Linked DNA regions of Homo sapiens. The protein of the gene in region 6 interacts with the protein of the main gene of each other region in a pairwise test. Each region holds a gene or a part of one and is shown on either strand. Other genes may lie near its edges. The genes, in order: SPRED1, RIMBP3, PSMA1, BANP, CRYBA2, C22orf39 and CEP76.

Region 1 (3,500 bases), on a different chromosome or scaffold from region 6:
TATTTAATCCACCATTGATGGACACCTAGGTTGATTCCATGTCTTTGCTATTGTGAATAGTGCTTGAACTTATTTTTAAAACTACTTTTTCTGTGAGTGTTGGGAGGCTCTAAACAATAGATGCCATTTGAAGACAAGATTAGGGTAGATCACATTGAAATTTTATTTGAGAGTTAATAGTTGAAAATATTAATTTTGTAAAATAGAAGAGGGGGCTAATTCAGTAATATTTTCATGTATTAAAAATTAATTTGGTGTTATTATTATATATTAAAAAACTAGAATCAAACTGTTTTTATGTCTTCCCCTTTTTAACAATTCCAATTTAGCATTGTTTTACAAAATACTGCTTTTCCCACTGTTTATGAATATAGTATAAATGTTGCAGTAATTTATGACACTACCATTTACTTCCCCTTGAATTCTAGAACTTAATCGTGAATTGTTGTTGTTGTTGCAAAATGGTTGTAACAAATATTTAATAGTAAATCTGTGTAAAATGCTTTAGCAAAGTGCCGACTCAAAAAAGCTCTGGATACATGTAAATTATTTTCTTTTTTTGAGACAGAGTTTTACTCTTGCTGCCTAGGCTGGAGTGCAATGGCATGATCTCGGCTCACTGCAACCTCTGCCTCCCAGGTTGAAGTGATTCTCCTGGCTCAGCCTCTCGAGTAGCTGAGATTACAGGTTCCCACCACCACGCCCGGCTAATTTTTGTATTTTAGTGGAGACGGGTTTCACTATGTTGGTCAGGATGGTCTTGAACTCCTGACCTCAGTTGATCCACCCGCCTCAGCCTCCCACAGGGCTGGGATTACAGGCGTGAGCCACTGTGCCTGGCGGTTAATTCTTTTCTAATACACATAGAGTCATCAAAGTATAGGAAGCAAAAGTCTTGAGAGAATTTCACTGCATTGCCTATAAACGGGCAGGACTGAACCTTAGTCACATTTTTGGTTATTTCTGAATTAATAAAACTTACTACCAAGAATTATTATATTCAGTGGTATGCTGATAAAAGGTTTAACAATCAGCTTTCAAGAGGGGACACAAGTCAATGATTTATAGCATTTACATACCTCTACCATGGCTGCTTTTACTCAACATGCCATCATTGCATATAGCATTGGGAAGAAATGAGCAGCAGTGTGGCATTATATAGTATTTCCACCGTACAGATATGACAGACATAAACTACCTCAAGAACCTAGGTAATTGTAAAAATATAGTAAAATAATTAGGAACTGATGAGTTTTGTGTATTTATTATTTTATTTTTAATGCAATTTATTTCATTGTAGAGTTATATATTCTAGCTTTTAACAATGGCTTCCAAAATTCTTGAAAATTTAATATCTGGCTCTTGGGAGCCAGTATAAGCAGACTCTAGCAGACCTCCCCTCCAAAAGTATAAATTAGAGATTCCTAGTCCATGATCTGTGAATGAGTTCCTTGGGAAGTGCATAAAGCCTAAAAGATTTCTGAGGAGAAGTATTGGTTGAGTACCTAATGTTTGTCTGCCACTGTAGTTTAAGGATTTGGCAAACAGACAAAGACCAGCTCATGCAGGGCCTAGTAGGTCATAGTAAGAATTTTAGTCTTGAAAGCATTGAAAAGACATTGAAACTAGGGAGTGGTCCAGTAAAGTTGCTATTTTTTTTTAAGAAAAATTATTACTCTACCTGCAGAGTAGTGCAATTACTATTAGTAATTCACTACTACTAGTAATATCTGAGGGGATCATCAGCAGTGCATGGAAGAGATGTGCAAGTGATAATGGTGATTGGAAAAGAGTGGAGGTAATGAAAATACAACCTTTCACCAAATACCAGCTGAGCATTTATTATGTGTCATGTGCTACTATGGGTTTCATTTGAATTATTTTTAATTCTTTTCCTCCTGTTTTCTTATAGGGGATTCTTAAAATAATTAAGGTGTGTAGTTCTAGTCTTTTTATTAGATTAATTGCAAAGATCACTAATATATCCACTTTTGTTTTATTTGACAACTAACATATATTAAAAGCATACTGTGAATATGATGAAAGACAGGCCCAGGAACGAAAGACTGAAGAGACCTTATAACTGTCCTGGAATGGATCCTATACTGGAAGGATTTTTAAAATGCTCTAAAAGGTGTTATTAGTATAGTAGGCAAAAGTGGAACGTGGTCTATGGAACATGGTCTATAGATTAAAGTTCTGTGTTGGTTTTAAATTTCCTGAATGAGATCACCATACTGTGATTACATAAGAGAATAGTATTGCACTTAGGAAATATACTCAAGTGTGTATTAAAGAGCAGTAGAACATAATATATGTAACTCCTTTGAAATAGTTCATAATAAAGTAAATTAAATGTTTATACATGGATATATGTGGAGAGAATGTTAAAAATTAATGTGATAAATCTGGATAAAGGGAAAACAGGAATTTTCTGTGTTATTCTTGTTACTTTTCTACAAATTTGAAATACTTTCAAAATAAAAAATTTAAAAACCAAGGGTATATTGCTTCATGCATTGCATGAAGCTCTTAACATGAATGCACATTCGGTCATTCCACTCTAAGCTCTGGGATATTTTAGTACTGCAATTTCTGTTTTACAGATGAGTAAACTAAGGCTTCAAAAGTTAGGTAACTCACTTAAATGCATATTTTGAAAAAGTGGCCAAGTGTATTTGTTTTACTGCTGTGACCATTAAATCCTTACACAAAATATAAATACGTCTTTTAAGAAGTTTAGGAAAATGACTTTATTTTGTTTTGTTTTGTTTTTGAGACAAAGTCTCACTGTGTTGCCCAGGTTGGAGTGCAGTGACGTGATCTCAACTCACTGCAACCTCCACCTCCTGGGCTCAGACGATTCTCCTGCCTCAGCCTCCTGAGTAGCTGGGATTACAGGCATGTACCTCCACACCCAGCTAATTTTTTATATTTTTAGTAGAGATGGGGTTTCACCATGTTGGCCACGCTGGTCTCAAACTCCTGATTTCAAGTGATCCGCCCGCCTCGGCCTCCCAAAGTGCTGGGATTACAGGTGTGAGCCACTGCCCCCAGCCAAAAATGACTTTAAAAAGTTAAATTTCTATTATTACCAACCCCCTGCCTGTTTCCTGGAAGTAATTCCTGATATATTCCTCCAGAAATTTTGTATGCAATGGGAGTGTATATATGTGTGTATTCTTAAAATGGGAGTATAATAAGCATCCTGTTTATAATGTGCATTTTTTTATTCCATCTTAATCTCTTTATTGAGTGACTTTGTGAAGTAGACCACTTTATTTAAAATACTAAAAATTATTCATTAAAAAGTAATAGCGTTGTATCACCTCAGTTTGTATTTATGAGCTACATTAGATGCATTTGATATATGTATATTAATTTTTGGTATTTGGCTTTTGTCAGGTGGTTTTGGAATGTATGCTTAAAAAAGACCTCATTTATAATAAGGTCACTCCAACATTTCACCACTGGAAGATTGATGACAAGAAGTTTGGTCT
Region 2 (4,040 bases), 830 kb from region 6:
CGATGTTCTTGTTACTTGACACTGCCTAAAGGCATGTTCTGTGGGTTCCGGGGAAACTGATTTGAAAAACTTGAGTGTTGTAAAGGAGGGCCATAAGCTGAGTGAACACAGCAGTTGTGAGAGGTCCCAGGTGCTTCCTGGGGACAGGGAGACACGACAGACCAAGAAGCAAAGGGGCCTCTGATGTGACTTCAATATCAAGGTCTTGTCGGGCACAGTGGCTCATGCCTGTAATCGCAGCACTTTAAGAGGCCGAGGCGGGTGGATCACTTGAGGTCAGAAGTTCAAGACCATCCTGGCCAACATACTGAAACCCTGTCTCTACTAAAAAGTACAAAAAATTAGCTGGGCATGGTGGCTCAAGCCTGTAATCCCAGCTACTTGGGAGGCTGAGGCAGGAGAATCTCTTGAACGTGGAAGGTAGAGGTTGCAATGAGCCAAGATTGCGCCACTGCACTCCAGCCTGGCGACAGAGTGGGGCCCCATCTCAAAAAAAAAAAAATCAATGTCTCGATGCAGACTGCCAGGTATCAGGTGTCCATCCATGTCTCCCAAAAGCCACTTGGCACCAGGAGCAGACAGGAAGGGCAAAGAGGAGCCAGACTGAAGCAGGGCTTCTTAGCTCCCAAGCCACACAGGTGGCCACCAGTCAGAGAGGCAGTGTGTGTGTGTGTGTGTGTGTGTGTGTGTATTTCTTCAGTTCAGTGTGTGTATGTATGTTTCTTCTGCAGCTCAGTGTATGTGTGTATTCCTTCAGCTCAGTATGTGTGTGTGTGTATGTTTCTTCTGCAGCTGTGTGTGTGTGTGTGTGTGTGTGTGTGTGTGTGTGTGTGTTTCTTCTGCAGCTCAGGATGCCTCCAACATTTCTGCTGAAGCCTCACCCTCACTCCTGGCCCATCCTGAGGCCTCTACCTAAGATGCCAATGAGTAGCCCAGACACTGGGGCTCCAGTGTTTGTCACCAGGTGGTACCTGGATGTGGGAGGTAGACAGGCCAGATGGCCAGTTTGGGCAGTGCCCCTCATGCCTATCTGGCCCTGGGTCCCTATGCCACCTTGCTGGGGAGGGTCTTTTCGCTTACACCTCCTCTGAGCCGACTCTGCGCAGTAACACAAATGTGTATCAGGCACATCCTTTCCTCAAAAGGTGGATGACCAGTTGGGTGATCAGGGCTGTTAGGGGGCTGAAGGGTCCTGGGGAGTCCAGGTCTAGCCAAGTTGAGGCCTATCCTGCTGCATTTTCCAGCCACCTGACCCAAATACACCACCTGAACCCACGACCAGGTATGCCCACACCCCATGGGTGGCCTTAACACACACACCCTGCCCCTTTCTCCAAGTACAGGAGCAGCAGCCCAGACTTCCCTCGGGGCACCGCGGCCTGCTTGGGACTGCACAGTGCCTGGGAGGGTGCCTGGGGAGGGTCACAAGGGACTTGGTGCTAGAAGCAGGAAAAGTGTAGGGACCGGAAAAGCCCCCGTGCATCCTGGAAGGGACATGGGCCAGTTTGAGCAGGGGTGTGGGAGTCCAGCCCTGGCCTTGCCAGGTGGAGAGGCGCCTGGGCCAGACATCCGCGGCAGGAGGCGGGGGAACATGCCAAGAGGCGGAAGGGGCACGCGGAGACCCCCAGGGGGCGCCGGAAGGGGCGCGCCGGGCGGTCGGCGGCGGCCGTTGGCGAGCTGAGGCCTGCCAGGCGAAGTCTGGAGACCAGCCGGGCCGCGGCCGCAATGGCCAAGGACTCGCCCAGCCCCTTGGGCGCGTCGCCCAAGAAGCCGGGCTGCTCCAGCCCGGCGGCGGCAGTGCTGGAGAACCAGAGGCGGGAGCTGGAGAAGCTACGGGCGGAGCTGGAGGCGGAGCGGGCAGGCTGGCGGGCGGAACGGCGGCGCTTCGCTGCCCGGGAGCGCCAGCTGCGTGAGGAGGCCGAGCGGGAGCGGCGACAGCTGGCTGACCGTCTGCGCTCCAAGTGGGAGGCACAGCGCAGCCGGGAGTTGCGGCAGCTGCAAGAGGAGATGCAGCGGGAACGCGAGGCCGAGATCCGGCAGCTGCTGCGCTGGAAGGAGGCCGAGCAGCGGCAGCTGCAGCAGCTGCTGCACCGGGAGCGCGATGGCGTGGTGCGCCAAGCCCGGGAGCTGCAGCGCCAGCTGGCCGAGGAGCTGGTGAACCGCGGCCACTGTAGCCGCCCGGGGGCGTCCGAGGTTTCCGCGGCGCAGTGCCGCTGTCGCCTGCAGGAAGTGTTGGCGCAGCTTCGCTGGCAGACTGACGGCGAGCAGGCGGCGCGCATCCGCTATCTGCAGGCGGCGCTGGAGGTGGAGCGCCAGCTCTTCCTCAAGTACATCCTGGCGCACTTCCGCGGGCACCCGGCTTTGTCGGGATCACCGGACCCCCAAGCTGTGCATTCCTTGGAAGAACCGCTGCCCCAGACCTCCAGCGGCTCTTGCCACGCCCCCAAACCCGCCTGCCAACTCGGATCTCTAGACAGCCTGAGTGCTGAAGTCGGTGTGCGCTCCCGCTCGCTAGGCCTGGTGTCCTCTGCGTGCTCCAGCTCCCCAGACGGCCTGCTCTCCACGCACGCCAGCTCCCTTGATTGCTTCGCACCTGCGTGTTCCCGCTCGCTTGACAGCACCCGGAGCCTCCCCAAGGCCTCCAAATCCGAGGAGCGGCCCTCCTCACCAGACACCTCCACCCCTGGCTCCCGGAGGCTCTCGCCGCCACCATCGCCACTCCCGCCGCCACCACCACCGTCAGCCCACAGGAAACTCAGCAACCCGCGGGGAGGAGAAGGCTCTGAGAGCCAGCCCTGCGAAGTCCTGACTCCCTCACCCCCGGGCCTGGGCCACCACGAGCTGATAAAGCTGAACTGGCTGCTGGCCAAGGCGTTGTGGGTGCTGGCGCGCCGCTGTTATACCCTGCAAGCGGAGAACAAGCAGCTGCGGCGTGCAGGCTGCCCCTACCAGGCAGACGAGAAGGTGAAGCGGCTCAAGGTAAAGCGCGCGGAGCTGACCGGGCTCGCGCGGCGCCTAGCTGACCGCGCCCGCAAGCTGCAGGAGACCAACCTCCGGGCCGTGAGCGCGCCTATACCCGGCGAGAGTTGCGCCGGCCTGGAGCTGTGCCAAGTCTTTGCCCGCCAGCGCGCTCGGGACCTGTCGGAGCAGGCGAGCGCGCCGCTGGCCAAGGACAAGCAGATCGAAGAGCTGCGGCAGGAGTGCCACCTCCTGCAGGCGCGTGTCGCCTCGGGTCCCTGCAGCGACCTGCATACTGGAAGGGGCGGCCCCTGCACCCAGTGGCTCAACGTCAGAGACTTAGACCGCCTGCAGCGCGAGTCCCAGCGGGAAGTGCTGCGCCTGCAGAGGCAGTTGATGCTTCAGCAGGGCAACGGTGGCGCTTGGCCCGAGGCGGGCGGCCAGAGCGCAACCTGCGAGGAGGTGCGACGGCAGATGCTGGCGCTGGAGCGCGAGCTGGACCAGCGGCGGCGCGAGTGCCAGGAGCTGGGCGCGCAGGCGGCCCCGGCGCGGCGACGTGGCGAGGAGGCCGAGACACAGCTGCAGGCGGCGCTGCTCAAAAACGCCTGGCTGGCGGAGGAGAATGGGCGGCTGCAGGCCAAGACCGACTGGGTGCGGAAGGTGGAGGCTGAGAATAGCGAAGTGCGCGGCCACCTGGGCCGCGCGTGTCAAGAGCGCGATGCCTCCGGCTTGATCGCCGAACAGCTGCTGCAGCAGGCGGCGCGCGGGCAGGACAGGCAGCAGCAGCTGCAACGCGACCCGCAGAAGGCCCTGTGTGACCTCCATCCTTCCTGGAAGGAGATACAGGCGCTCCAGTGTCGGCCTGGTCACCCTCCTGAACAGCCCTGGGAGACCAGTCAAATGCCGGAGTCCCAAGTTAAAGGTAGCAGAAGGCCCAAGTTCCACGCACGGCCTGAAGACTACGCAGTGTCACAGCCCAACAGAGACATACAGGAGAAAAGGGAAGCCTCCCTCGAGGAGAGCCCAGTTGCCCTTGGGGAGTCAGCCAGTGTCCCCCAAGTTTCAGAGACAGTCCCTGCCAG
Region 3 (3,500 bases), on a different chromosome or scaffold from region 6:
TCTTAGACTGGTTAACGAGCTTGTTTTAACAAGGAATGAAGTACTGTCTTTATTTTCAAATTATACATTATTAACAAAGGTCTCTGGCTTATTCTTTAATTGTTGCATAATCCACCAGAGAAATAATGCAATAGGACACTATTTCTTTGGCCTAATATAAAATGTTTGACTTTCTACCGAACCTAAGAAAGAGTGCCAGCAAAATAATTTCTTCCCATCTAAAACCTGATTTGTTTTGGATACAAGGGGTCTAGGATTTCTTGGGACATCTAGAACCATTAAGAAACTTTAAATCCCCTCTAAAAAGATGCTTAGATGATTTTCCTGAAGTTGGGCTTATTTGTGTCTAGCAAATATAAATTGCTTATAAAGGCTAATGAAAGAGCAATCCAATTTGTTGTTTTAAAGTTTTCACAATCTTACCTATGTCATATTATTATTATATTCCTAATAATTAACACAAGTATCAAAACCCTTCAAAGTTCATATCCATAAATGCTAACATAAAAAGGATACTGCTTCCAATTAGAGATACAAGACGAGACACAGGCAGTGGTCTATCGAATACAAATCTGGAATCCAAACACTCCTGACGCATAAAATTACTAAAAAAGAAACAAAAAAAGTTTAGTAATTTCAAATTATAGACAACTATTCCAATCTAAATTGTTTGATTTCACTTCAAATTCTTCCAAGCGTTTACATGGATAACATCCATATAAGAAAAACAGAAGGTAAGAAAGACATGCCTGCAAGGGTGCGTTTTTGTGCTAAACTCTGGAGCCACATAAGGTTTTTAAAAAAGACTGAAACATTTTTTAGCTCTAGAAAATCTTTGTATCAGAGCACTTATGGAACAGAGAAGAGAAGGCTGAACAAAAGAAAAACAGCAACCTCTCTTCTCTTATCCTTCCCACTGTCAGCAAGCTTGTCGTAATTCTAGATCTCGAACCAGCAAAAAGATTATCTACTCTGTCCTTTTTTCTTGAAAGCAGACTAACATTTCTCCAAAAGAGCAAATATAAGAAATGGAAAACACAGCAGGGGGGATCTTTACGTGTTTCTGCCACTGTTACTTCTATTCATAAGAAGCACTCTAGAGGAGATACTGGACACTAGCCGCTGAGTCTCACTGTTAAATCTGATGAAATTCAAGCAAGGTTAACATTGGGGAGAAGAGAATTTATGCCTATAAATAAGATAAACAAGAAATGGATATGCTCCTTTTTCTCAATGTTGCTTTGTCCAGTATATGCGTATGTCACATCTGATCATCACATGGTTGACTACAGGAACCAAGCTATTTGTTCAGTACTTATATTTAAGTCCATTTCCCAATGCTGCCTAAAAGTATACTGCCCAATATGGCAGGCAATAATCACATGTGGCTATGGAGCTCTTGAAAAGTAGCTAGACTGAATTGAGATGTACACCAAGTACAAAATAACATACCAAATTTCAAAGACTTAGTACCTAAAAACGTGCAATAACTCATTAATAAAGTTTTTATATTGATTATGTGTTGGCATGGCAATATTTTATAGATTGGGTTAAATAAAATGTTTGATAATATAATACATTTTCCATTTTGAAGAGTAGGTGGAAACCCTTAAGGCTGTCATTATATTGCTGACTTAGAGCAAGGGACTGGCTGAGTAAATTGAAATTCTTTTTTTTTTTTTTTAATACTGAGTTTCGCTCTTGTTGCCCAGGCTGGAGTGCAATGGCATGATCTCAGCTCACTGCAACCTCTGCCTCCTGGGTTCAAGCGATTCTCTTGCCTCAGCCTCCCAAGTAGCTGGGATTACAGGTGCCTGCCACCACGTTCAGCTAATTTTTTTATTTTTAGTAGAGACAGGGTTTCACCATGTTGGCCAGGCTGGTCTTGAACTCCGGACCTCAGGTGATCCACCCGCTTCAGCCTCCCAGAGTGCTGGGATTACAGGCATGAGACACCATGCTCAGCCTGAAATTCTTAAACCATAGCATTACTATTTACACTGTTTTTGCTGCTGCTGTTGTTTTAAGAATAGGGTCTCACTCGGCTAGGTGCTGTGGCTCACGCCTGTAATCCCAGCACTTTGGGAGGCCGAGGCAGGTGGATCACGAGGTCAGGAGCTCTAGACCAGCCTGGCCAATATGGTGAAACCTCGTCTCTACTAAAAATGCAAAAATTAGCCGGGTGTGGTGGCACATGCTTGTAGTCCCAGCTACTCGGGAGGCTGAGGCAGAAGAATTCCTTGAACTCTGGAGGCGGAGGTTGCAGTGAGCCGAGATCATACCACTGCACTCTAGCCTGGGCGACAGCGCGAGACTCCGTCTCAAAAAAAAAAAAAAGAATAGGGTCTCACTCTGTTGCCTACGCTAGAGTACAGTGGCACTATCATAGCTCACTGCAACCTTGAAATCCTAGGCTCAAGCAATCCTCCCACCTCAGCCTTTTGAGTAGCTAGGACAACAGGTGTGTGCCACCACACCCAGCTAAGTTTTAAAATTTTTTGTAGAGATGGGGATTCACTATGTTGCCCTGGTCTCAAATTCTTGACCTTAAGCTTCTCAAAGAGCTAGAATTATAGGTAGGAGCCACTGTGCCAGGCCCACCCTTATAATTTATATTCTTTCTTTCCTAATCAAATCACAAATTTACAAGATTAGTTTTAGCTAACTACCTGCCATCCACAACACACATACTCACATAATACCTGAAAGGCTCTGTGTTAGTGGTTTACAGTAGGCAATTTAAAATATTTAAAAATAGGCTGGGTGCAGTGGCTCACACCTATAATCCCAGCACTTTGGGAGGCTGAGGTGGGCAGATTACCTGAGGTCAGGAGTTCAAGACTAGCCTGGCCAACATGGCGAAACCCCGTCTCTACTAAAAATACAAAAATTAGCCAGGCGTGGTGGCGGGTGCCTGTAATCCCAGCTACTCGGGAGGCTGAGGCAGGAGAATCGCTTGAACCTGGGAGGTAGAGGTTGCAGTGAGCTGAGATCACACCACTGCACTCCAGCCTGGGTGAGAGTGAGACTCCATCTCAAAAAAATAAATAAATAACATTTAAAAATAGCCTTGATAAAGAAAACACTGGAAAAAATTCAGTGTTTAGGTATTTAGCCAAATCTCAGATACTAAGTGGTGAAGGTGAGAACTCAATATGTGCAATTTCAAAGCCCTATCTCTTCATTTATGTATTGCCTTTTAACCATAAATAATCTGTCTCTTCTAGACTCTCACAGAAATTTTTCTGTTATATTATAGATAAACTACATTTGAGTTTATAGATAAACTTGCCTTCAAGTTCCCTTAAGACAAGATCCATGTCTGAGTCACTTATGTATACCCTGCAGTATCCAGTATTGAGCATTGCAAAAAATAAATGTCTAATAAATACTGATGTATTGAAGAAAACAAGCACAAAGAAAACAAGTGTGGTTCAGCTTGTCCTTAGAAACCAGACAAAAGTATCACGTTCTTCTTAGACATAACAGGGTCTCAAACG
Region 4 (2,191 bases), on a different chromosome or scaffold from region 6:
CCGCAGAGGCGCGCCCTGTACTCTGCGTGGTGTTTGGTTCCACATTGTCGCCGACCTCACTGGAGATGCGCTGGAAGCACGGTGAGGGCCATGGGCGCAGAACGCACAGGCAGTGAGGAGCGGGTGGGTGGGATGGTGAAGGCAAACTCGTTCGGCAGCGCTTATTTTATGTGGTGTGAACCTTGGCCTGTCCGTGAAGAACAGTCAGGCGTGGCTGCCTCAGCCCCTGCCGAGGACGCGTGGCAGCCCCCCGTGCCGTTCCAGATAGGAGCGCTGCAGGAGGGCAGTGAGGTCCGCGCCCAGGAAACTAGATGTGGGGGCCATGCCTGAGGGCGTCCTGCTGCATTATAAGTTTCTGGTCATTTTCCGATTTCAGAATTGAACAAACCTGTGTCCCATGGTTGGTGTTTACACCCCTAGCTTCCTGTAAGCTCTCTCTGTTACCATGCCCTCCTGGCAGGCCCCAGGTGAATGATTTAATTAGGATCCATCGTAACAGCCAAGGAAGACGGCGTGCTTAAGGGGCCGCTTTCCCTGCAGAAAACCCCAGCGTGGTTGGACTTGGTGGTGAGCGGGTTTGCCCATCTGAGGCCAGACAACTGCAGGGTGCGTTAGCTTGTCACCAAGGGCCCAGCTCTCTGCCTTACCATCTCAGCTTGTCCTCAGGCTAGCTCTGCCCCACTGGGAAGTGACCGAAGGCCTTCATGGTGACTCTGCAGGCGTGACTGCACCCAACAGAGACAGGTTTCTGGTTGAGCCTCCTTATCCACATGAAGCCCCCACCCCAGTCATGCTTGGGAATGGTCTTGCATCTTGCATGGGTCAGAGCAGGGTCACGCGCTTGAGCTCGTTCTAGGAAAACCTGTGGCTCAGCTGTGAGGGCCTGGCTCTGAGAAGATGGGTTCCCTTAGGAGGGAAGGCAGGTAGCTGGCCTGTGGGGGTGGCCAATCCTCAAAGTGGAGAGTGGGGCCTGTTCCCTGGAGCAGTGGGTTGGGAGGGTAGGGGGGTGCCATTTGCAGGGGAAGACACTTGTCTTAATGCGCGGTGGCCTGTGGGTGTCACAGGCTCCCTGAACCATCTGTAGCAGAGGCAGCACCTCCACCAGCCTCTGCCCAGAACACAGGTCTGGCCACTGTCCTTGGAGGGCAAGTGAGTCCCAGCCAGCCCAGACCTGTGCCCCACTGTCCCCACCCACCCAAGTCCCCAGCTGCCTTTCCAGCTGTCTGGGGGAAGGGGCTTTGCATCCCAGGCGGTGGCCCCCCTACCCCAACCTCCCATGGCCTTCAGCCACCCACCCCAGGGCCCTGGTGTGGCTCCTCCATTCCAGCTGAGGTTCACCCCTTCCCGTTAGGCCTTCCCAGCTGTGGCCGGGCTCGCAGGAGACAGTCCTCATACTGACCCCTCATCCTACCCTGGAAGGCCCCTCCTCCATCCAGGGAACAGTATATCGAGTGTCATTTGACATTTGTCTTGAAAAAGCACAACCTGGACCAGGTGCAGTGTTTCATGCCTGTAATCCCAGTGCTTTGTGAGGCCGAGGCAGGGGCGTTGCTTGAGCCCAGGACTTCAAGACCAGCCTGGGCAACGTAGCGAGACCCCCATCTCTACAAAACGTAAAAAAATTAGCTGGGGCCGGGCACGGTAGCTCACGCCTGTAATCCCAGCATTTTGGGAGGCTGAGGCAGGCCAATCACCTGAGGTCAGGAGTTCGAGACCAGCCTGCTCAACCTGGTGAAACCCCATCTCTACTAAAAATACAAAAATTAGCCAGGCATGGTGGCAGGTGCCTGTAATCCCAGCTGCTCGGGAGGCTGAGGCAGGAGAACTGCTTGAACCCGGGAGGCGGAGGTTGCAATGAGTCGAGATTGCGCCACTGTGCTCCAGCCTAGGTGACAGAGTGAGACTCCGTCTCAAAAAAATTTAGCCGGGCGTGGTGGTGTGCACTGGTGGTCCCAGCTACTTGGGAGGCTGAGGTGGGAGGATCACTTGGGCCCATGAGGTCGAGGCGGCCGTGAGGTGTGCTTGCACTACTGCACTCCAACCTGGGCAACAGAGCAAGACCCTATCTCTAAAAAATAAAATGAAGCAGGACCTTAACTAGAGTAGAAGTTGCCAGGCCTCTTCCTCCCGTGGGCTCGGCCGTGGGCTCGTGGCTTCTCCTGGCTCTTCCTTTGTGGTTCCTGTGCCTTCC
Region 5 (4,140 bases), on a different chromosome or scaffold from region 6:
TTCTCTACACCCCCCACCCCCACCCCCACCGCCGCCTTTTCCCAGCTCACTCTGTCGCCCAGACTGGAGTGCAGTGGCTTGATTTCGGCTCACTGCAACCTCCACCTCCTGGGCTCAAGCAATTCTCCCATCTCAGGCTCCCAGGTAGCTGGGACTACAGGCGCATGCCAACACGCCCGGCTAATTTTTGTTTGTTTTTGCAGAGACGGGGTTTCACCATGTCGCCCAGGCTGGTCTCAAATTCCTGGGTTCAAGAGATCCTCCCACCTGGGCCTCCCAAAGTGCTGGGATCACAGGTGTGAACCACTGCGCCCGGCCCTGGGAGATTTCTTAGCTGTGACCCCTGCACCACATTCCAAAGCCCTCTGGGCCTCCACTTCTTCATCTGCGAAATGCAGGACAATAACAGTATCTTCCTAGCAGGTCAGTGTTAGAATTGATGGAGTTCACGCACCCGAAAGCCTGAGCAGAGAACTCGGCCTGAACTAAGCGCTTCATCCTCAGCTGCTAACTCTCAGGCAGACGTCGAGGCTGGAACCCTTAGAGCCTGGAGCTTTGTGGGAGACCCGCAGCGGCACCGGTTGAGCCGAGCTAAAGCCCAACATTCTTCCTACCTCCCGCGGCGAGCCACTCCCTAGGTGGCTATTATGCCTAAACACTGAGTAAACCGCGCGGCCCTCGGGCGGTCGTTTCCAGCGCCCGGCGCCGCCGCGTGGCGAGTCCTGACCACCGCCTCCTCTCCTTCCCGGGCCCGAGGACACCCCGGGGGCGCGGCGCAGGATCTGGGAACGCACGCTTGGGAGGAAAAGGGCCGCGATGGACCGATCCCCCAGGAAAAAGAGGACTGAGCACATGAAGCGAATCCTTTGGGCAGAGCCCTCTCTACCTCCGCCTTAGCATCGCCCAAAAGAGAGGCCTGGACTAGGGCCGAGGAAGGCTGGCGATTAGACTCTGGGAAGAACTTCCGCTCAGCGAGTCAGCAGCGCGGTCTTAGCCCGAGGCCCAGGGGAGGCCAGGTCCCTTCGTCCCCGAGGGCCGGGACAGGGAGGGCGCGTTCTGCCCCGAGGCCTGGCGTGCCCTGCCTGGCTCAGGCTGGAAAGAAAGAAAGCGCGGAGTCAGCCTGGGCTGCGGCGGGCGCGGGGTGCGCGCCTCAGCACTTTCTGTTGTCTTTCCCGCGGGCTGGGGCCACAGCGGCGGCTGCGGGAGAGGCCTCGGCTCCCCAGCGGAGACCAGAGCCGACCGCAGCCTGCCTGCTGACTCAGCGACCCCACCCCCGAGGGAAAGGGTGCGGACAGGGGGACAAGGCCCAGGTATAAAGCTCGGCCCGCCCGGCCGCGCGCAGCCTCGCAGCCGGTCCATTTCCCTCGCGTGCCGCGCTCACCCACCCGGTGAATGCCCTCTGCTGGGGTGGGGAAGGGAGGGGAGCGCGGGAAGACTGCGAGCCCCTGGCAGCCGGGTCCAGAGCTAGGCCGGGTCCAGCCCCCGGGTTCTTCATCCGCTACCCAGGTTGGGCAGGCTGTGTGTGGCTCGAAACGGGGCTCTTGAGACGCTGAGCGCGTGGTGCCACCCTTCCTGTCCGCAGCGGCATGAGCAGCGCCCCCGCGCCGGGCCCGGCGCCCGCCAGCCTCACGCTCTGGGACGAGGAGGACTTCCAGGGCCGTCGCTGTCGGCTGCTAAGCGACTGTGCGAACGTCTGCGAGCGCGGAGGCCTGCCCAGGGTGCGCTCGGTCAAGGTGGAAAACGGCGTGTGAGTGATTGCCTGGCCGCGGCTGGGCTGGGTTGAGGGGCGCTGGGTTCCACCGGCCTAGGCTCAGAGCCTCAGCCCCCTGTCCTGTGAGCCCTGGAGAGACCTGCCAACATGGGAAACCCCATAGCCTCCCCAAAATTCCCCACCCATCGCAAGATAAATCATGGGAAACTGTGTATTTTTGTGCTAGCTAAAGAGACACAGGCGAGAAGCGACCCCTTGAGGGTCCCTATGGGACCCCACCGTGAAGGGGTTTCTAGTGTACTTACACCCTTCCCAGAGTTTTTCTCTGTGCAAAATTAGAAGGCTCTGCACTTGGCTTAACAAAAGAAACCCAATCCCTTTCCCTGGCCCCACCCTGGTCTCCCAGAGCCCAGCTTTTCCCACCCTGCCGCCCCCTACCCCTGCCCCAGCTGAGGTCCCAGTTTCTGCTGTGATATTCGGGAGGGGTCCTCCAATGTGTCCCCATGCAAAGGCCTAAACCCTTGAGGCAGGAGCACTGGGTCGGGAGATCTTCATAACCAGGAAAACTCTTTCCCAACCTGGGGTCCTTGAGGGGGAAGCCTGGGCGCCTCAAACCCCAGAAAGCAGCAGGTTTTGGACCTTTAGTTCCGAGAGGGGCTGGATTGCCATACAATGGGGGTGTCAGGGGAAGGGTTTGGGGTTGGAGAAAAACATTGTGCTTCTCAGTCTTTTCAATCATGGCCGGCAAGGGGGAGGGCAGAGAGGGTGCGGCTGGGGCAGATACCTCCCAGCTCTTCTCCTTTTCCAGTTGGGTGGCCTTTGAGTACCCCGACTTCCAGGGACAGCAGTTCATTCTGGAGAAGGGAGACTATCCTCGCTGGAGCGCCTGGAGTGGCAGCAGCAGCCACAACAGCAACCAGCTGCTGTCCTTCCGGCCAGTGCTCTGCGCGGTGAGCACAGCCCACTTCTCCTCCCCTGCCTCCTAGCTCCAGGCCCTGGCCTCACCATGGCACCTAGAAAGGCTGTTCAAGCCCTGCATGGGGTGTGTGTAAACAAACTCCGAGATGGGTGGTAGTAGCATTATTTCTCAGAATCAGAAGGGTGTCTCCAAGAAAGTTGGGATTGTGGGCGTAGGCCCGGAGCCCAGAAATCATCACCACGGACAGCGCTGAGGCCATCCCAGTCCTGAGTGCCCAGGGTTCCCCCACATTCCATCGTCCACACGTGTGAGTGAGTGCCTCTGTCGTCACACAGCCATGTGAGGTCGGGTTGACTGCTGTTAGCCCCATACACAGGTGTGGAAATGGGGCTCAAAGGGACAAAGTGGCTTGCCCAGGGTCACTGAAAAGAGTCAGTCTCAGTGTGTTTGTGTGTGTGTTATTGTGTGTGTGAGGGTGTTGTTAATGAATCAAATACACCGAAAGAGAGGACCTCATTTTCCATTTGTGCCGACCTGGTTACTAGTAGGGCTGGGAAGTGGAGAGCAGAGGACCCAGCCCAGGCCAGCCCAATTCTTCTGTTCCAAGAGGCTGAAGAACCCTGCAGTGGGAAGGCCGGAGCCAAGATGCAATCAGTATTGATGCCCTGACATGTCTATTCTGATTCTGCCACCCAGTACCTCTTAGCTGGGCACTAATCTGTGAGAGGCTGTGCGAAGGGGCTGGGCAAGGGCTTGGGTAGTTAGTCAATGAGGACCTCAGGGAACTGTCTTGGTGAATGGGACAGATTTCTCTAAGGACCTCTGATTTTGCTCCTGCAAAATGGGCCCATGTCACAAGATGCTCTCTAGTCCTGACCTGAAAGGGTCTCTGGAAATCCTATCCCCCAATCACCTCCTTATCTCAAAGTCATGGGAGGGGCCAGGTTCGGGGGAACCTCTGAGCGATCCATTTCCCAGACTGCCAGGGAGCTGATGGGGTGAGCTCTGGGAGTGCCTGTGGGTCCTAGACAGCTTCACAGCTTGTGAGGTGCAGTGGGTGGGGGAAGTGAGGCAGAGGATGTATCCGTTAACCCTTTGGAAGCCCTGATCTTTCTGTCCTGATCTTGCTGTGCCTCAGAACCACAATGACAGCCGTGTGACACTGTTTGAGGGGGACAACTTCCAAGGCTGCAAGTTTGACCTCGTTGATGACTACCCATCCCTGCCCTCCATGGGCTGGGCCAGCAAGGATGTGGGTTCCCTCAAAGTCAGCTCCGGAGCGTGAGTCCTGGAACTGGAACCAGGGAGACAGAAGAGCAGGGAGGCAATGGGGACCAAGGAAGAGGGTGGAGAAAAGTGATGTGGGGAGGGCGCTAAGAGAGATATTGGGGACTTGGAGGCAAGGGGAGGGAGATGATGGAGTCAGACTGGAAGGGAGGAAATGAGGAGGTCCTAGGAGAATGGGGGGCAGCGGGCAATATGGGCACAGATGAAGGGCTGGAGAACATGA
Region 6 (2,163 bases):
ATATGCCCCAGACTCACGAGGTCAACCAGAGCCATTGAGCCCTGAGGTCCAGGAGAAGATATTTAAAAATTCCTCAAATTATTATGACCTATTCAGTAGTTTTTCACAGTAGCTTGTGAGAAAAAAAATGATCTCCATCTCTGTGCGCTAATATGGAAGAATCGCCAAGGTATAGTAGGTGGAAGCAGCTGTGCTGCAGAGTGGTGTGTACCATAGGCCCTGCCTGTCCATCTGTGTTTCAGAGGGTGATGAGAGGGGGGAGGTACAGGGGTCTTGAGGGTGCTCAGAGCCTGGGGAGTGACTAGAGTCTCATTTGCACAGCAATCCCTCTGTGAGAGCGAGCGGGCACGAGTCCGGGCTGCACGGAAGCACATCCTGGTGTGGGCCCCGAGGCAGAGCCCCCCTCCAGACTGGCATCTCCCTCTGCCACAGGAGAAGGACGAGTGACAAGCATCCCTGCCATTGGCCTGTGCAGCTTCCTCAGTCTGTTTCAAGTTGCTGTTGCACAGCCCTGGGGACTGTGACCAGCCTACACAGTCTGGTGGGTCCCTGTGAGCTCTTGCTCACAGGAACATGGAGCAGGACATTGCTAGCCCTACTTGCCCACCCCTCACCTGCATGCAGGATACCCTGACACTGCGATGTTCTGCAGGACAATTGCACCGCTTTAGAGCTTCCAGGAGGCCAAGCATTATGGCAGGTACTTGTGAGCAGCCAGGTCAGGCTGGGCATGGTAGCATAGGAGATGGCGGTCCTGAGGTCTAGGCTTCTCAGGTAAACTGAAGGGTAGCCCTGACCTGTGTGGACACACAGGTGGGTCATAATGAGGTAGCTAAACAGTTGTGCCACTGTGAATGTCTTTCCTAGTCCTTGGGAAACTGCCTGCCACGTCCCAGGTTTGGTGAGCATTGTGAGTGCTCACACTCTGCTCCACTCGCTCAGTTCCACTGCACATGCAGGCAGGTGTGCCGAGCAGGTAGGGCTTGCTGGCCCCTCTGCACCAGCAGGCTTCACTTCTTAGGCTCCCAGGTCGGCCCCTGGAGACTCTGGTTTTTAAGAAATGCACACAGCTACAGAACACACAACCTTGCATAAAGAGGGTTTGTGGACTCAGCTGAAGAAATCCAAGTCCAAGACATATGGAATTAAGCACTCCTTCCCTCAAAATTTCCCCTGGTGGTTAATGTATCAAAAGCTATTTCATCTGATTTCAAATAGAAGCTGAAAATTAAGTTCACACTTGTTAGATTTTGTGTGTAACAGTGTTGTACCTGGACAGTATTAGAAATTTGTATGCTTATTCTCTTGTTAAGTGTTTTAAAATGTATGAACCACCAAAAACACTATTTCTTGAAGAGGTCTGTTTATTACTAATAGAATGGTTTCTCATCCTATGGTGGCCCTGTTGTGTGATGCTGAGGGCTAGGCTGGGTCTGTGCCCAGCACCCTCCCTGCTCTCTTCCTGGACACAGGCAGCAAGTTGAATATCTTTTAATTTGTTCTTTGGGGCAGAATAATCTATCACGTTAGAAGGGTGTCCATTAAAGAACAGTATTTCCCTGCTTGAGTGTGTTTTCTCCTGTGCTCCCTAAGAGCCCCTGTGTCTGTGAACAGTGGGGGTGGGGGTGGGGGTTGTGCTCACGGGATCCCAAGAGCAGGAGCATCTAAAGAGGAGCCAGCGTTCCCCCATCATCAGGGGAGTACTGATGTGTCTAAGGCAACCAGGGTGCCTCCAGCATGGCTGTGGCTGGTTTAATAATGAGCATTTCCACCCAGTGAGGGAAGAGAGGAAGACTGCTAGAGATCTACAAGGTTTTTCTTACTCTTAAACACAGGGACGGGGCATCTGAATTTGCAGTCTGCTGTAATCCCAGCACTTTGGGAGGCCAAGGTGGGTGGATCACTTGAGGTCTGGAGTTTGAGACCAGCCTGGCCAACATGGTTGAAACCCCCCATCTCTATTAAAAATACAAAAATTAACTGGGCATGGTGGCACGTGCCTGTGATCCCAGCTACTCGGGAAGCTGAGACAGGAGAATTGCTTGAACCCCAGAGGCAGAGGTTGCAGTGAGCTGAGATCGTGCCACTGTACTCCAGCCTGGGCGACAGAGTGAGACTCTTGTCTCAAAGATAAAATAATAAAATGAGTTTGCAGCCTGCATG
Region 7 (3,500 bases), on a different chromosome or scaffold from region 6:
CTGTCTAGCTGTCTGCTGCCCTATACACAGCTACATCTCCAGTGTCTAGAACAGTGTCTAGCACATTTTGACATCTATTTAGGATCCATACATATTTCTGACTTTAATTTCTTTTAAGAGACAGGGTCTTGCTCTGTCACCCAGTCTGGAGTGCTACTGCATGATCATGGCTCACTGTAGCCTCGAATTCCTGGGCTTAAGCGATCCTCCCACCTCAGCCTCCCCAGTAGCTGGGACTACAGGAATGCACCACCATGTGCAGTTAATTTTTAAAAATTTTTGTAGAGATGAAGTCTACCTATGTTGCCCAGGCTGGTCTTGAACTCCTGGCCTGAAGTGATCCTCTTACCTTGGCCTCCCAAAGTGCTGGGATTACAGATTAATTAGCCTGGCTAAAAGTTTTAATAGTGCAATTTTAAAGAGAAAATTAGAAGCAATTTATTTATCAGATAATAGAATAAACTTATGTTTTAGTCACTAGAAATTATAAATATGACAGTGGAAATATAAGAAAATACATATAAAATAATGTTAAGTTTAAAAAGGAGAACCTGGTGGGGCACAATGGTCCATGTCTGCAATCCCAATGTTTTGGGAGGCTGAGGCAGGTGGATTGCTTGAGGCTGGGAGTCTGAGGTTTCAGTGAGCTATAATCACACCACTGCACTCAAGCCTGAGAGAGTGAGATGCTGTCTCTAAAAAAATAAAATTTAATTAAAAAAAACAAGCTACTACCCCAAAAAAGTAGAGCCCAAACATTTACTTTATATGTCACATAAATATATGAATAACATGATTAAAACTCATGTATACCACTTTGGGAGGCCGAGGCAGGCAGATCACGAGGTCAAGAGATCGAGACCATCCTGGCCAACATGGTGAAACCCTGTCTCTATTAAAAATACAAAAATTAGCTGGGCGTGGTGGCACCCACCTGTAGTCCCAGCTACTCAGGAGACTGAGGCAGGAGAATTGCTTGAACTCGGCAGGCAGACGTTGCAGTGAGCCAAGATTGCGCCACTGCACTCCAACCTGGCGACAGAGCGAGACTCTGTCTGAAAAAAACAAACAAAAAAACCCCTCACGTATACACATAATGTATATGTGTGTATACACCATTTATTTAAGAGACAGGGTCTTAGTCTGTAACCCAGGCTAGTGTGCAGTGGTACAATCACAGCTCACTGTAACCTCAAATTCCTGGGTCAAGCAATCCTCCCATTTCAGCTTCCCAAGCAGCTGGGACTACAAGTATGTACCACCATGCTTGACTAATTTTTTAAAATTTTTGTAGAGACAGGGTCTCACTATGTTGCCCAAGCTGGTCCTAAACTGCTGGACTCAAAAGTGATCCACCCACCTTAGCCTCCCACAGGGCTGGGTATTTATTTGAGTAACATCAAAGTTGGTTCTCACTATGTGGTTTCAGGTATATATACCACCCATGACACATGTCAGAAGCTAGAGATTAGAGGGAGATGAGAGTTTACAAAAGGAAGGAAAAAAAGTTTAAAGAAAACAGGGCAGGACATTGTTTGCCTGAGGGAGAAGCACTAGCGTCTAACCACAGGTCTGTAAAAGGAACAATATGACAGGCAGGGTGGAGTAAAGGGTGGTGTATGTAATCAAGGAGAACCATTCCACAAGTGCCATCCCGGCAAGTCAGCAGATAATGAGAACCTCCAAACTAAAGACTGGCAAGAACTAAACATGGATGGCAAATCCAATGTGAAGGAATGAAAAAATCTGCCGATCTTTTAAGACCCAGGAAGAAAGTAATTCATCAGAGACCTGACAGTGGAATTAGGGAAAAAAGCCTCTCCAAACACACTCTAAAAGTGGCAAGCACTTCTACCCTGAGAGAACAGAGCAGAAAAGACATAAGCAGCAAGCTTTCAATAAACGCCTGCGAAAGAACGTTAAAATCCCATCCCACTGAGGTTGCACTTTACTCTTTGATCTTCTTCAGCTTTATCCTGTAATTCTTTTTTTTTTTTTCTTTTTTTGAGATGGAGTCTTGCTCTGTTGCCCAGGCTGGAGTGCACTGGTGCGATCTGGGCTCACTGCAAGCTCCTCTTACCGGTTCACGCCATTCTCCTGCCTCAGCCTCCCGGGTAGCTGGTACTACAGGTGCCTGCCACCACGCCCGGCTATTTTTTTTTTTTGTATTTTTAGTAGAGGCGGGGTTTCACCGTGTTAGCCAGGATGGTCACGATCTCCTGACCTTGTGATCCGCCCGCCTCGGCCTCCCAAAGTGCTGGGACTACAGGCGTGAGCCACCGGCCTATCCTGTAATTCTTATGCTGTCTCAATAAATGTTCATCGTATTTCCTAAACTAGACTACAGATTCTGCTAGGAAAACAATCTTGTCTTTATTTTCTTCCTCATCCTTTTTGTGAACCTTTGAGTGCTAATCTAGAAAGTAATAAATGGTAATTTTCTAAAAATAGAGTGCTTTCTAGGATCAACAGGTAAATATACTACTATGAAAACAAACACACAAAAAAAGAGAAACTCATAAGTATTTACCTGTGTGTTCACTACTTCTTGAGATAACGTTTGATTGAGTGGTGGATACATTTCAAGTTTTATATTTAAAATTCCCACAGAAACTTTTGATTCTGTGCCTATAAACATAAATATTTTGAACTTCAGAGATTTCAATACTATATATATTTAGTCAACCAAAGTCTAACCAAAATAATTTAGGCACTTGGGTGTTTTATCACTTACATGGAATAAAGATAACATTCAACATTACCTTTAATATTCATATTAAAATGAACCAAATCAATTTTTTTAAACAAAGGTGTTTAATTATAAGGAGATTATTTTCTTAGCTTTCTGACACTCTTTTTCTTCTTTAAGTAGAGATGGGGTCTCCCTATGTTATTCAGGTTGGTCTTAAACTCCAGGGCTCAAGTGATATTCCTGCCTCAGCCTTCCAAAGTGCTTGGTGGGATTACAGGCATGAGCCACTACACCTGGCTTTTCTAACAGGTTTTAAGAAACTTTTCTGACTTAAAGGATTTGAGACTCTTAATTTTTGTCTTAATTAAATGTATAATATCAACCAGACTTACATTAAATTCAAAGTCAAAGCAACTGTTAACACCTCATTCCTTCTCCACACACACACACACACACACACACACACACACTAAAAATTAGAAAGCATTTATATTGTCACTTATAGTAACTCCCATTTGTCACTCCCCATTATCCAATTACAGGCTGAGTAGAAATTTTCAATCCATGCCTGGATTTAAAGAACTAGAAAACAAATATACTTCACATCAAAACGATTTAATGTTTCTTCAGTGAATCAGAATCTGCTTGTTTCCAGGTCACTGCTACGATTATCATGTTAGGCCTATTTTTGAAGACAAATTGGGTATTGTTTTTGAAAATAAATTTCTTACATAAAGGACACTTTTTCTATAATTTTTATTTAAAGAAAAATACATTCTTGGTATGACTTATTAAAATCTAAATTACT

Evidence for each region.
Region 1: the proteins of C22orf39 (region 6) and SPRED1 interact in binary tests that used the Homo sapiens proteins (3 or more experiments, as listed by UniProt).
Region 2: the proteins of C22orf39 (region 6) and RIMBP3 interact in binary tests that used the Homo sapiens proteins (3 or more experiments, as listed by UniProt).
Region 3: the proteins of C22orf39 (region 6) and PSMA1 interact in binary tests that used the Homo sapiens proteins (3 or more experiments, as listed by UniProt).
Region 4: the proteins of C22orf39 (region 6) and BANP interact in binary tests that used the Homo sapiens proteins (3 or more experiments, as listed by UniProt).
Region 5: the proteins of C22orf39 (region 6) and CRYBA2 interact in binary tests that used the Homo sapiens proteins (3 or more experiments, as listed by UniProt).
Region 7: the proteins of C22orf39 (region 6) and CEP76 interact in binary tests that used the Homo sapiens proteins (3 or more experiments, as listed by UniProt).

What each region holds. Positions count from the first base shown.
Region 1 is NC_000015.10:38,318,836-38,322,335, forward strand, and holds part of SPRED1 (sprouty-related, EVH1 domain-containing protein 1), read left to right. Parts: intron 1-3,405; coding exon 3,406-3,500. UniProt on the Homo sapiens protein: Tyrosine kinase substrate that inhibits growth-factor-mediated activation of MAP kinase. Negatively regulates hematopoiesis of bone marrow.
Region 2 is NC_000022.11:18,609,120-18,613,159, reverse strand, and holds the start of RIMBP3 (RIMS-binding protein 3A), read left to right. Parts: upstream 1-1,240; 5' UTR 1,241-1,725; coding exon 1,726-4,040. UniProt on the Homo sapiens protein: Probable component of the manchette, a microtubule-based structure which plays a key role in sperm head morphogenesis during late stages of sperm development.
Region 3 is NC_000011.10:14,513,887-14,517,386, forward strand, and holds part of PSMA1 (proteasome subunit alpha type-1), read right to left. Parts: intron 606-3,500; coding exon 517-605; coding exon of another isoform or gene 467-516; exon of another isoform or gene 24-466; intron 2-23; coding exon 1-1. UniProt on the Homo sapiens protein: Component of the 20S core proteasome complex involved in the proteolytic degradation of most intracellular proteins. This complex plays numerous essential roles within the cell by associating with different regulatory particles.
Region 4 is NC_000016.10:88,073,434-88,075,624, forward strand, and holds part of BANP (protein BANP), read left to right. Parts: intron 1-2,191. UniProt on the Homo sapiens protein: Controls V(D)J recombination during T-cell development by repressing T-cell receptor (TCR) beta enhancer function. Binds to scaffold/matrix attachment region beta (S/MARbeta), an ATC-rich DNA sequence located upstream of the TCR beta enhancer.
Region 5 is NC_000002.12:218,990,623-218,994,762, reverse strand, and holds the start of CRYBA2 (beta-crystallin A2), read left to right. Parts: upstream 1-1,340; 5' UTR 1,341-1,586; coding exon 1,587-1,747; intron 1,748-2,519; coding exon 2,520-2,661; intron 2,662-3,768; coding exon 3,769-3,911; intron 3,912-4,140. UniProt on the Homo sapiens protein: Crystallins are the dominant structural components of the vertebrate eye lens.
Region 6 is NC_000022.11:19,442,549-19,444,711, reverse strand, and holds part of C22orf39 (synaptic plasticity regulator PANTS), read left to right. Parts: intron 1-321; coding exon 322-447; 3' UTR 448-2,163. UniProt on the Homo sapiens protein: Negatively regulates long-term potentiation and modulates adult synaptic plasticity. Stabilizes the interaction of RTN4 isoform A/Nogo-A with its receptors, inhibiting clustering of postsynaptic AMPA receptors at synaptic sites.
Region 7 is NC_000018.10:12,692,724-12,696,223, forward strand, and holds part of CEP76 (centrosomal protein of 76 kDa), read right to left. Parts: intron 2,629-3,500; coding exon 2,531-2,628; intron 1-2,530. UniProt on the Homo sapiens protein: Centrosomal protein involved in regulation of centriole duplication. Required to limit centriole duplication to once per cell cycle by preventing centriole reduplication.